3 linked regions of the Homo sapiens genome follow. The protein of the gene in region 2 purifies or fractionates together with the protein of the main gene of each other region. This does not show direct contact. Each region holds a gene or a part of one and is shown on either strand. Other genes may lie near its edges.

Region 1 (4,407 bases), on a different chromosome or scaffold from region 2:
TCCATGTGATATCAAGCAATTTTATAGGAAATGAGAAGCTTCTTCAATAAGGTGATATAAAAAGGTATAATGATGTTTTACTTAACTAAAGCAGAGGTATGTGTATATTAAGCAGACACATTCAGAAAATAATTGTTGGGCTTTTGTTTTATCACAGTTTCTTGCTGTGGAGTGGGGTGTGATGCCATTAATAGGATTTCAAACTTAAGTGAGAGAAAAAGAAATAGAATCAAATAAGCTTTAAAGAAGCTGATTCATCTCACCCAACACCTTTTCTACTGATATAGCCTCCTACATATTAGGAAAGGCAAGGGTTGGAGTTGTTTAAAGAGTTGAAAACGGGAAAGGAAATAGAGGAGGGAAGTTTTATTGAGAAGAATTCCACCTGTCTAAACAAGGAAAATAGTATCCTATGGGCAAACTTTAGCATCCCTGAAAGAGCCCTGGATCTTCACTGATGGCTGCAGAGGGGACACCCTGATAAATAGATGACATCGACAGAGTGTCTCAGGAAGAAACAAGTGCATGGATTCATAAAAAGGCCAGATGGGACGGTGGGCTGCTATGAAATATTATAGCACACCTGTGGAATACGGTAGTGTAGCTGGGAGGGACACATTGGTCTGGGCCAGGGAATCACACTGCATTGTCCTCACACATTGCCTTTAACACATTGCCACTCTCCACTCGGAAAATAGGTCGAGCAGGTCTAGGGACTGTGGTAGGGCAGTTACAACAATTTGATCGTATATCTTTTCACTATCTGAAAAACAGAAGTTGTTATTGAGCAAAGATTTAGTTCTGGGGTAATACTAAATGCAACATCTAGATGTTTGAAAAATAAAGTTTCCAAAAAACATCTGCATACAAATTAGGGCTTATGAAATATAGGCAAGCTTAAGTGTTATCTTCCACCATTGTTGGGAAGGAATAAATCTTGAACATTTAGGAGTTCAACGTCTATTAGTAGAATGATTTTTTTAGGAGGTGATCCCTAAACTCCTTTTTATGTTCTAAGTACTGCATGGTTGAGGGCTGGACTGTCTAGTGCTGAAAGAAAGTGTGTATTGAACATAGAGCCTGATACACAGTTAGGCGCTTAATGGTTAATTGATGCTGGTTGAATACAGTTGTATAGTTGGACGCACCAAGTTTGTTATTAAGGGAGGACCACCATAAAACTCGAACACCAGTTAGAATGTCTTGGGTAGAAATTCACAGCAGTCTGGAGCCACGTTCCCCTGCTGAGAAGGGAACTGCCAACCCGTGTAAAGTCTGGTCTAGTGAGTGTTCCCGGGAGTGTGCAGGTGTTATTCCTGAAAATAAGGCCGGCCACTACCAGACAGAGAAGCTGCCCATTTTAAGGTGTCAGATCAACGCCAGCGACGCTTACCTCGGGGCCTCCTCTCGCCCCACCTTTGCCTTTCTGCCAAATCTCTCCTTGCTCCCGGCCGAAGGGATTCCCACCCCCAGCTGCCTCCTCCGAGCCCCGCGGAGCAGCGGACTCCTCCCCTGGAAACTCCTCCGGGGCTGGGGGAGGCTTTGGCGCATGCTCCGTACCTAGGGCAGGTTTTTGCTGCGGGTAGCAGGGCTCCTGTCACACCGGCTGGCGGGTTGTGGCGGTGCCAGCCTGTGTGTGCGAGTGTGTCTGCGTGCCTGCGCCTGGGCGGACAGCCCGGAGCGGCAGTGCGACTCGCCGGGAGAGGCGTCTCCGCAGAGGCGCCTCGCCCGCTGCCGCTGCGCTGCGGGGGCCGCTCTGCAAACTTGCGGCGAGCGCCGTCAGCCCTCGCGGCTCCACAGCCCCGCGACCTGCCGGCAAAGGCGCCGGGCGCGCGTGCCGGGCGCGGTGCCCGCGGCCGGCCGGGGCGGCGGGAGCGGGCCGCGCCTTCGCCCTTGGCCGGCGCCCTGGCGAGCCTCATGCAGCCCCGGCGCTCGCGGCCGCAGCTACCCGGCTGCCCGGCTGCGCGCGGCAGGTCCAGGACCCGAACCCCGCTCCCCAGCGCCTGAGCGCCTGCAAGCCGCCGGCGGGATGCCGCGCGTCGCCTGAGAGAGCCGCGCCGGGGCGGGAGCAGGGAGCGGGCCGGCCCGGGCGCACCCGGGAGCGCAGGGCGCCCCACGCCGCAGCCGCAGCCGAGCGCGCCGGCGCCCGCCTCCCCCGCCCGGCTCGCAGGCCCCGGCTCCTCAAGCCCCGAGGGCCGCGGGGCCGCCAGCCAGCCACACGCCTCGGCGTCAGGGGCATGGAGGAACGGCGGGCTCCGAGCCGCGCCCCGGAGTCCGCGAAACTTCCGAGCGGGCGCCCGTCCGCCCTGCCGCCGCCGCCGCCGCCGCTTCGCCTGCCGGCCTGAGAGCGGGACCATGGATGAAAGGTTCAACAAGTGGCTGCTGACGCCGGTGCTCACTCTCCTCTTCGTGGTCATCATGTACCAGTACGTGTCCCCCTCCTGCACCAGCTCCTGCACCAACTTCGGGGAGCAGCCCCGCGCGGGGGAGGCCGGCCCGCCCGCCGTCCCGGGTCCCGCCCGCCGGGCTCAGGCGCCGCCGGAGGAGTGGGAGCGGCGGCCCCAGTTGCCCCCGCCGCCCCGGGGGCCCCCCGAGGGACCTCGGGGGGCCGCGGCGCCGGAGGAGGAGGACGAGGAGCCCGGAGACCCCCGGGAGGGGGAGGAAGAGGAGGAGGAAGACGAGCCGGACCCCGAGGCCCCGGAAAACGGCTCCCTGCCCCGATTCGTGCCGCGCTTCAACTTCAGCCTGAAGGACCTGACCCGCTTCGTGGATTTCAACATCAAAGGGCGCGACGTGATCGTGTTCCTCCACATCCAGAAGACGGGGGGCACCACTTTCGGCCGGCACCTGGTGAAGAACATCCGGCTGGAGCAGCCTTGTAGCTGCAAAGCGGGTCAGAAGAAGTGCACCTGCCACCGGCCTGGCAAGAAGGAGACGTGGCTCTTCTCCCGCTTCTCCACCGGCTGGAGCTGCGGGCTGCACGCCGACTGGACGGAGCTCACCAACTGCGTGCCGGCCATCATGGAGAAGAAGGACTGTCCCCGCAACCACAGCCACACCAGGTACTGTCGCCCGCTGGGTCTCTGTTCTTCCCCCCCACCCCCCATCCCTCTTCCTCAGTCCTGACCCAGAGCGACCCCGCGCTCCCTGCCCCTGCCGATGGTTTCCTGGCGTCTTCAGCGGTTGGCGCCGTGGCTTTGGGGAGGGATGAGAAACCTCCGGATAGTGCCTAGGTCCTGAACTCGTTCTTCCCCCAGCCCCCACCGCTTCCCGCCACCCCTCTGCCTTCACCCTCTAAGATGTGCGGAGCCACCGTGTGGATCCTGCCTGTTGCCTAGCACGGCCTGGCCTCCCTCCCAGTGGACGCTGGAAAAACGCCCTGAAATGGGGAGCGGATCGCGGTCTGGGTTAGACCAGCCTTGTAGAATTGTGAACTTAAGTTTTGGGAGTGTAAACCCAAACCCAGGAAAAGGAAGGGGGAGTAGAGAGGCAAGGCACGAGTTTTCCAGGCGTGGTGAAGCTGGAGACGAGTATAATCCCTCCCTAAGTGGCTTTTGGATGGCAGCTCAGGAAACAGTCAATCCTCTTGATGCCACTTTGAAGACACACGTGCAAATTCCTGTTCTACCGCGATAGATAACTCTAATTCTGGAGATGGTCTTTGTTGCCCAGCAGTGCCAGGATTTGGACTCACCTGTCCTCAGAAAGATTTCCATGCTCTTCCTAGGCCATTACATCAACTTATTCCAAAAGTATGTTAAATGCCTACAGGGTGCCTGACAGTGTGCTAGGTGTTAAGTGAGTATAAAGATAACATAACATCCCTTGTTTTCAGGATGGAATGACATTCTTGATCCCCTGCCTCCCAGCCTTAAAAAACAGTAATACAGTGGAGAATTAAGAAAGTTAAAAATCTTAATAGCCAATGAAACTGCTTACATTATTAACATGCTTTGAGAGAGACATGGGCTTAATAATTTGGTTGAAGGTCCTTTCTGCCCATTGCAATTTGAAGATTAATCTGACATGCTTGCTAAAGGACGAAAATATTAAAAGCTTGGAACACTAGTTCATTGAAGTTTTTATCTTAAAGGTTTCAAACAATTTGGTATGAGGAAATAGGAATTTAAAAGCTCAAGCTGATTATGTTGATATCCCAGATAGCTTTTGCATTTGACGTTATAGAAAAGCTTCATTTACTGGAAGCTACCCAGATTCTGGAATTCACCACCACTGAAGCATCTAATTCTACTTCATTTCTCCAAGAATGAGCAAAATTTCATTATGAGATTTTTTACTCTGGCAATTCTTCAGATACTTTCCTTCCTCCCTGCTCCTTTTCCTGTTTCCTGCACATTAGTTAGAATAAGAAACTGGATTTGGAATGAGGGAATTAGGCTCTTCTCT
Region 2 (4,425 bases):
TTGCATTTCAGCATAGTCTCTGGCCCTCTGCACCATGCTATATTTTAACCCTCTGGACCCAGTCTCTCCATGTCAGAAAATGGGAATGGGAGACTTTGCACCAAATTAGAAAGTCTCCACTGTGTTTGTGTAAAAAAGAGGTTAATAAGATGTCATACTTCATAATAACCTGGCATATTTTTACGTATATTCATACTAAGTCTCTAGAATTTCTGATTCAGTATATCTAAGGAGAGGCCAGAGCAAGGGTGCTTTGCAAGAGTTCCCCAGAAAATACTAATGGGCTCCTGTTTGCAGTGAAAGCCACGATTCTGCCTAGCCTTCTCACATTCAGCTATAGACATTGCCCAGCTCATTTTTCCACATTGGAAGTGTATTGAAAGCAAATTAAACTGTCTTAAGTCAAAAAACAAAAGGTATCCTCTGGACCTTTTTAAAAATTCCATCCCAAGCCAAAATCAATGTGATATATTATTTCTCTGCCTGCTGTGCAACCAAACATGATCCTCTCCCATCCAATCTCTAAGGTTATTTCTACTCATATATGTTTATTAGCCATGATTCATTACATATTCATTCATTCAATAAGTATTTGCTAAAGCCTACTCTATTCAACACACTCAGCTCAACATCAGAAATGTGTAGATTTAAAAGACAAAGTCTTGGCTTTCAAACAGTTTAATTTCATATGCATACATTTGGGAGGATAAAAGGAAAAATTTGTTTGGATTGTCCTAATAGAAAATGTTGTCCAGAACTGTTCCTGCTCATAAATTCTGCCAAGTAAAAGTACTCAATAATTATTAAGGAAGCTACACTATGTACAACTCTTGAAGCATAGAGTGCTGTCTTCATTTTTGTTGTTGTTTGTGTTTCTTGCAAACCCACTTGTGTTTTCTACCACCATTAGAAATGAGAACTGAGCTTTACTGAGCATGAGAACAAATGTCTCTTGAGCAAAGGAATAAAAGAAGCTGAGAAATAAGGAGGCATGAGAATGTGAAATAGAAGGAATATGAGAAAAGAGAGGAGGAAAAGAAGAAGAAAAACAGAGAAGAAAGAGGAAGAGGAGGAGAAACCTCTAGATCAGATGAATCTGAACTCACTATCGAGGAAGGAAGAACAATCTTGGTTTTCTATAGGGTGGGCTGAGACTGCTCCCATATCTCTCTGTACATGCCAAGATTTGACAGGAGACAATTCCAAACATTCCAGTCTCCTGACTTCCTCTATCTCAGCCATCTACAGTCACATCTATTGTTCTTCAGTGCCCTTGAAAATCACACTTAAGAAACTTTCTTCAGAATTTGAAAATAATACTGGATATTTTTCATCCAGTGTTTATTCTCCCCATTTCCTTATTTAAATCACTTTGTTGAAGTACAATTGGCACACAAAAAGCTATACATATTTAATTTATACATTTTGATGAGTTTGGAGATAAGCATACATTACACCCATGAAACCATCATCACAATCTATGCCATAAACCTATCCACGCCTAAAAGTTTTCTCCCACCATCTTATTTATTATTTTTGGTACATCAAATCTTATTTTAAGAACACTTAACATAAAATCCACTCCCTTGGTAATTTTTGAAATATCCAACACAGTACCGTTAACTATAGGAACTGTGTTGTACAGTAGATTTCTAGGACATATTCATGACAGTATAGTCTCTTCAATAAATGTATTGGGAAAACTAGGTATCTAGATGCAAAATAATAAAATTGGATATTTATCTTACACCATACACAAAAACAAATTCAAAATGGATTAAAGACTTAAATCTAAGACCTGAAACTATAAAACTCCTAGGAGAAAACATAGAGAAAAAGCTTCTTGACGTTGGCCTTGGGAAGGATTTTCTGGATATGACACCAAAGCACAGGCAACAAAAGCAAAAATAAACAAGGGGATTGCAGCAATCTAGAAAGTTTCTGCACAGCAAAGGAAACAGTCTACAAAATGAAGAAACAACCTATGGAATGGGAGAAAATATTTGCAAATCATATATCTGAGAAGGAGTCAATATTCTCCTTATTTCAATAGCCACAACCCTGCTGTGATGAATTCAACTGTCTTACTCAAGCTTAATCACCCCCAAACCCAGGCTAAGTCAATCCCTGCCCAGATAAACCTCACATACCCATGACTGAATAAGATACCCACTTTAGGCAAACACTAACTACAACTCAAGCCCTACCTCTTCTAATAACCACCAAAAGCCCAACTGCAAAACATACAAACATAACACTATCCAAGCCACCCAACCCCATTCACAGCATCAATCTAAAACACAACCCAGCTACAAACCTCTCTATACCCCAACTCCCAGTTGCACCAACTCTACCCCAGCTCCATTCAAGAAAAAATACCATTTCCTCTCTAGAATGCACCAAAACATCTATTCAGCCCAACCTATAAATACAATTATTCACCCCATGCTCATCCCCACTCACTTTTTGGATATTACCCTATCTCTAAGGTCTTACAACCTCCCCACCTCAACTCCCTACCCAACTCCAAACTGCTATACCCCTCCTATAGCTCCTCAACTTGCACACAGTCTCTCACACCTAACTCATGAATTAAGCCCCCATCCCAATGACAGCACTACCTAAAATGTTCCATGCTTAGACTGTCCACTATGCCAGGATCAACAACCTCTTCAATTTGTCTTGGCAGAGCAGAACCAGGGGAGATCTTTACATGAAATTAACCTTGGGAATAACATCTGTGACCCACCTGAGACCAGAAAAGGCTTTAGGTGTTGCCCACTATATGTGAGTAGGAGTCACTGCAGAGGTCACCAAGATACCAGTACCACATGCAAGACGCCAGAACCTTTGAGAGAGGCCTGAGTTACCTGGAGTCTTTTGAGCCAGGATCATAAGGATGGCAATGGTCATTAAACAGGGCTTCATGACTGACATGTTCCACCAGAATGAAGGGCTGTGTTGCAGGTGACCAAACAGAGATCACTGTAGCAGAGCAGTAGCCCGCCTTTATTAGTTTTGGAAATGCGTCAGGGTTCTGTGCAGTGAACTAAAAGGGATGGGAGATACCTGATGTCAGGCAGGAAGAAGGACAACATGTATCACTTATCTGAGCTGGATACTCTGTGTAAGCGTGGGAGACTTGCCAGCAGTGCTCATGTCTGTGTGGGCCTTTCTTCCCATTAAGAAATAAAGACAAATTAGAGCCAGTTGGCATTTTGTGTGAAACGAATTTGAATGAATGAATCAACCAAGCAAGCAAGCAAACTTGAAAAAACTTATAAACAATTAGATAAGAAATAAGCACGTGTATACCTATGTGAGGCACGTGTATACCTATGTAACAAACCTGCACGTTCTGCACATGTACCCCAGCACTTAAAGTATAATTGTAAAAAAAGAAATAAATAATTATTTTTAACTGTAGTCACCATGCTGTGCCCACAGAACACCAGAACTTATTCCTCCTATCTAACCGAAAGTTTGTACCCATTGACCAATGTCTCCCCTTTCCCCATCCACCCTCCCTCGAGGCTCTGGTAACAACCATGCTAATCTCTACGTCTATGAGTTCAATTTTTTTAGATTCCACATCTAAGTGAGATCATATGGTATGTGTCTCTCTGTGCCTGCTTTATTTCACTTCACATAGTGTCTTCTAGGTTCATTCATATGATTGCAAATAACAGAATTTTCTGTTTTTTAAAGGCTGAATAGTACTCCAGTATCTATAGTTAATAATAATGTAAAGAGCTAAAAGAAAGATTTTTAAATGACCTCATCACAAATAAATAATAAATATTTGAGGTGATGGACATGCTGATCTCTCAATTAATTGATCCCTTTATTATTATATAATGACCTTCTTTGTCTCACTTTGTGGTTTTTTACCTAAAGTCTATTTTTTCTGTTGTAAGAAAAGCTGTTCCTGCTCTTTTCTGGTTTCTTTTTCCATGGAACATCTTTTTCCATCACTTAACTTTCAGCCTATGTGTTTCCTTAAAACTGAAATGAGTCTCTTGTAAGCAAAATACAGTTGAGTCATTTAAAAAAATCAATTCAGCCACTCCTTCAATTGGCAAACTGAATCCATTTACATTCAAAGTAAGTATTGATAGGTAAGGATTTACTTTTGCCATTTTGTTCATTCTTTTCTGGTTATTTTATACATCCTTTGTTCCTTTCTTCCTCTTTTGCTATCTTCCTTTGTGATTAGATTATTTTCTATATTAGAATGCTTTGATTCCTTTCTTCTTATCCTTTGTGTATCTACTGTCAGTTTTTGCTTTGTGATTACTATAAGGGTTACACAAAACATATGTTGTTATAACCGGCTGTTTAAAGCTGATAACCACTTAACTTTGGTTGCAAAATATGATTCTACATTTTTATTGTATCTCTCCTGATAATTTATGTTTCTGATGT
Region 3 (3,500 bases), on a different chromosome or scaffold from region 2:
CCGCGGGGTCAGGGTGGGCGCTCAAGCAGCTGGCAGGCGCGGTTGCGAGCAGGCCCCTCGCCCCACCCAGGCCAGACTCGCACCCTGCGCTTCGTGTCCAACGTGACGGAGGCAGACCGCATCCTGCTACGCTGGGAGCGCTATGAGCCACTGGAGGCCCGCGACCTGCTCAGCTTCATCGTGTACTACAAGGAGTCGTGAGTGCCGGGGGCGGGGCCGGAGCGGGGGCGGGACCGGACGAGGCCAATTTCTTCGGGACCACAGGCAGGTGAGGGCGGAGCTCAGCGAGGCTATGAAGACCCAGGAAGCCAGGACCCGCAAGTTGTACTCCGTGGTAGGGCCCAGGTCTGGCTCTCTTCCCTCACCTTCTTCATGCCTTCATGCCTCGGTTTCCCCTCACCAAGTGAAATGGAGAAGACAGGGCTTCTGAGAGCCCAGGAGAGCCATCCTGCTGGGAAGGCTTGGATCATTAAACTTCACTTCATTATGCTAATGTTCTACACTGACCACACGCTCCTGCCCCAGCAGCGGTTTGGGGAGCGCCCACTAATTTGGCCAGTTTTATGAGCAGCTCTGCCAGCATTTCATTTAAGCCTTAGGAAGGGAGGGAGCAGGGGCCGCCAGGGACCACAGCTGCTCTTTTCTTTGGAGAGAGTCAACTGACCCTAACAATGAGGATAGTGGTTAGACCACAGGAAAGACTTCTCCAAAAACACGGTTAGGAATCAAAAGGAGATATCCTTAGAGGAGGGAAGTGGATTTCAGATGCAGGCTGGGAAGGCAGGAGTAAGGAGTTCATGCTCTCTCTCTCTGGTAGATATTATAGAAGATGGAGGCCACCTGGCTTAGAAGCATTTCCTGTGAATTAAAATGGAGAGGACTTAGCTGACCACTGGCTCAGGGTCTGGCTTGGGAGGAGAAAGGAAGGAAGTCAGTTGTAGGAGACCCACTCAAATGGCCGAGACCCTCCTAGGTCTCAGTGGTAGGTGAAGGTCTCCAGCGTGGGCAGCTGGAGAGTTTGTTAAATACAGATTCCTGGGCCTCGCCCCCCACTGATTCTGATTCAGTTAATCCTGAGCAGGGCCCAAGAATTCACATGTCTAATAAGCTCCTAGGAGATGCTGAAGCTGCTGGTTTGTGGACTGCACTCTAAGGAGCCCTGGCATGACTACAGTGTGAATCTCCCCCAGCTCCCCGGCTTGTGCACTTCACAATCTGCACAACTATACACAGCTGTCTCTGGGCTCAAAGAGCAGAGAACCTTGGGAACCCTTCAACAAGCTTCCCTAACATCACTGCCCTGCAGCGTGGCTGCAGCTATGCTCCCTCAGAGACACACACTGCAGATCCTGCCCAATCCTGACTCCAAACAGACCCAGACCTGCTCAGTGTGTCATGCCTCACAGGACACCTGCTCCCATGACACCCACTATGAGCCCCCACCCCCCCAACCTGCTCCTGGACTATCCTGCTTATAGGTCCCAACAAAGGCAGGCACTTCCCGCTGGGCCACAAGTTCCCCCACTGCCACCCAATTTGACCTCCCTCAAGTTTTGTCCCTGGCTCAGCATGAATTCCATCATCCCCTTCCCAGTCCAAAGAAACAAATTATCATGAACATCAATGTGATGTTCCATTGTCTCCCATGGTCTGTTCTGCTATCTCCCATGGGGGGCCCACTGTCATCTCCCCCAGGGAGCCCTCTTCTACCCCTAAAGCCAGTGATGCTTCCCCAAGCCCTGCCCCGAAACTGGCCTTCAGGCAGCCAGCACTAGTTGCCTCTGGCCCCTTAATTTCCCTGTGGCAGTGGGTCTTGGCCTTTTAGGGTCATGGACATGTTTGAGAAGCTGTTGAAGCTAGGAACACTCTCTCTAGAAAAACACACATGCACAAAACTTTGCTATAGTTTGGGAGGCTCATAAACCTCCAAAGTCAATTCAAGGGCCTAAGTGAAGACACTGGGAAGGGAGCAGTCTCCTGTTCCTCGTTCCAGGCAATTAGACTTAGGGGAATTAGGATAACCTTATTGCTTGCTGTTTCTAGGAGAGGGGACTCTTTCACACACACTTTCTTGTTTTATTTATTCAATGCAAGATTTTTTCAATATTCATTGAAACTAGAACTTGATATTCCCTGCTAAGGATGAGGAGCTATATCATTACAAATTTCACTGACACAGATATCACAGTCCCTCCCCTCCTCCGCCCCCCCTTGCCAAGGTCTAACAGGTGGCTGGAGTCATGGCTTTGCCCTCATGCATACTGGAAGGACAATGACAGTCCTGGGGTGATTCAGAGCGGGGGTGCCAGAACTTGAGGGTGGGGTTGAATGACCCCTCAGCTCTGGGGATGGGTGTTCAGCCCATTCCAGAACGCCACAGAGCACGTGGGTCCAGATGCTTGTGGAACCCAGAGCTGGAACCTGCTGGATGTGGAGCTGCCCCTAAGCCGCACCCAGGAGCCAGGGGTGACCCTAGCCTCCCTCAAGCCTTGGACACAGTACGCAGTGTTTGTGCGGGCCATCACGCTAACCACTGAGGAGGACAGCCCTCATCAAGGAGCCCAGAGTCCCATCGTCTACCTCCGAACGCTGCCTGCAGGTAGGCATTTGGAGGGTGCAAGAGTCAGTCAGACGCCTGCATCCATGAGAACAGGGGAGCACAGGCACCAGAAATAGAGAAGCCGGGGCACTGAACACCTGGCCCACAGAGGCTGGAAGGCCAGATGCTTGAGTCCTAGAAAGAAGGGGGAGCATTTGCCTAGGTCCTTGCGGGGCTGGGATTGGGACAGTCCGGGGTCAATAGCTGAGGGAACTGAAGGGCCTATGGCAGAGAAGGGGAGGACAGAAACAAAACACTGAGTTCTAGGAAGCCAGGGGTGAGGATCACCTATTCTTTGGGAGAACAAGGCTGTTGGACCCCAGAAAGGAGGGCTCATTACTAGATAGTATTCAGGAGGAAGACCCACACCCCTGAGTTGCATCCTTCTCGCACTCCTAGCTCCCACGGTGCCCCAAGACGTCATCTCCACGTCCAACTCCTCCTCCCACCTCCTGGTGCGCTGGAAGCCACCGACCCAGCGCAATGGGAACCTCACCTACTACCTGGTGCTGTGGCAGCGGCTGGCAGAGGACGGCGACCTCTACCTCAATGACTACTGCCACCGCGGTGCGCAGGGACGACGCGCAGGCCGGCCGCGGGGCGGGTGGGGAAGGGGAGATGGAGGCGCAGGGCCCCGGCAGGTGGGGGGGATCAGAGGCGGGTAGACCGCCTGTCTTACTAGTGTCTTCCCGCTGCGGCGCCAGGCTTGCGGCTGCCCACCAGCAACAACGATCCGCGCTTCGACGGCGAAGACGGGGATCCTGAGGCCGAGATGGAGTCCGACTGCTGCCCTTGCCAGCACCCACCTCCTGGTCAGGTTCTGCCCCCGCTGGAGGCGCAAGAGGCCTCGTTCCAGAAGAAGTTTGAAAACTTTCTACACAACGCGATCACCATCCCCATG

What was found.
Region 1: the proteins of DEFB116 (region 2) and HS6ST3 purify together in Homo sapiens (affinity purification with mass spectrometry; one large-scale study listed by BioGRID and IntAct). This does not show direct contact.
Region 3: the proteins of DEFB116 (region 2) and INSRR purify together in Homo sapiens (affinity purification with mass spectrometry; one large-scale study listed by BioGRID and IntAct). This does not show direct contact.

What each region holds. Positions count from the first base shown.
Region 1 is NC_000013.11:96,088,508-96,092,914, forward strand, and holds the start of HS6ST3 (heparan-sulfate 6-O-sulfotransferase 3), read left to right. Parts: upstream 1-1,599; 5' UTR 1,600-2,355; coding exon 2,356-3,062; intron 3,063-4,407. UniProt on the Homo sapiens protein: 6-O-sulfation enzyme which catalyzes the transfer of sulfate from 3'-phosphoadenosine 5'-phosphosulfate (PAPS) to position 6 of the N-sulfoglucosamine residue (GlcNS) of heparan sulfate.
Region 2 is NC_000020.11:31,305,649-31,310,073, forward strand, and holds the start of DEFB116 (beta-defensin 116 precursor), read right to left. Parts: upstream 2,938-4,425; coding exon 2,871-2,937; intron 1-2,870. UniProt on the Homo sapiens protein: Has antibacterial activity.
Region 3 is NC_000001.11:156,845,618-156,849,117, reverse strand, and holds part of INSRR (insulin receptor-related protein precursor), read left to right. Parts: intron 1-70; coding exon 71-197; intron 198-2,360; coding exon 2,361-2,599; intron 2,600-2,998; coding exon 2,999-3,166; intron 3,167-3,303; coding exon 3,304-3,499; intron 3,500-3,500. UniProt on the Homo sapiens protein: Receptor with tyrosine-protein kinase activity. Functions as a pH sensing receptor which is activated by increased extracellular pH. Activates an intracellular signaling pathway that involves IRS1 and AKT1/PKB.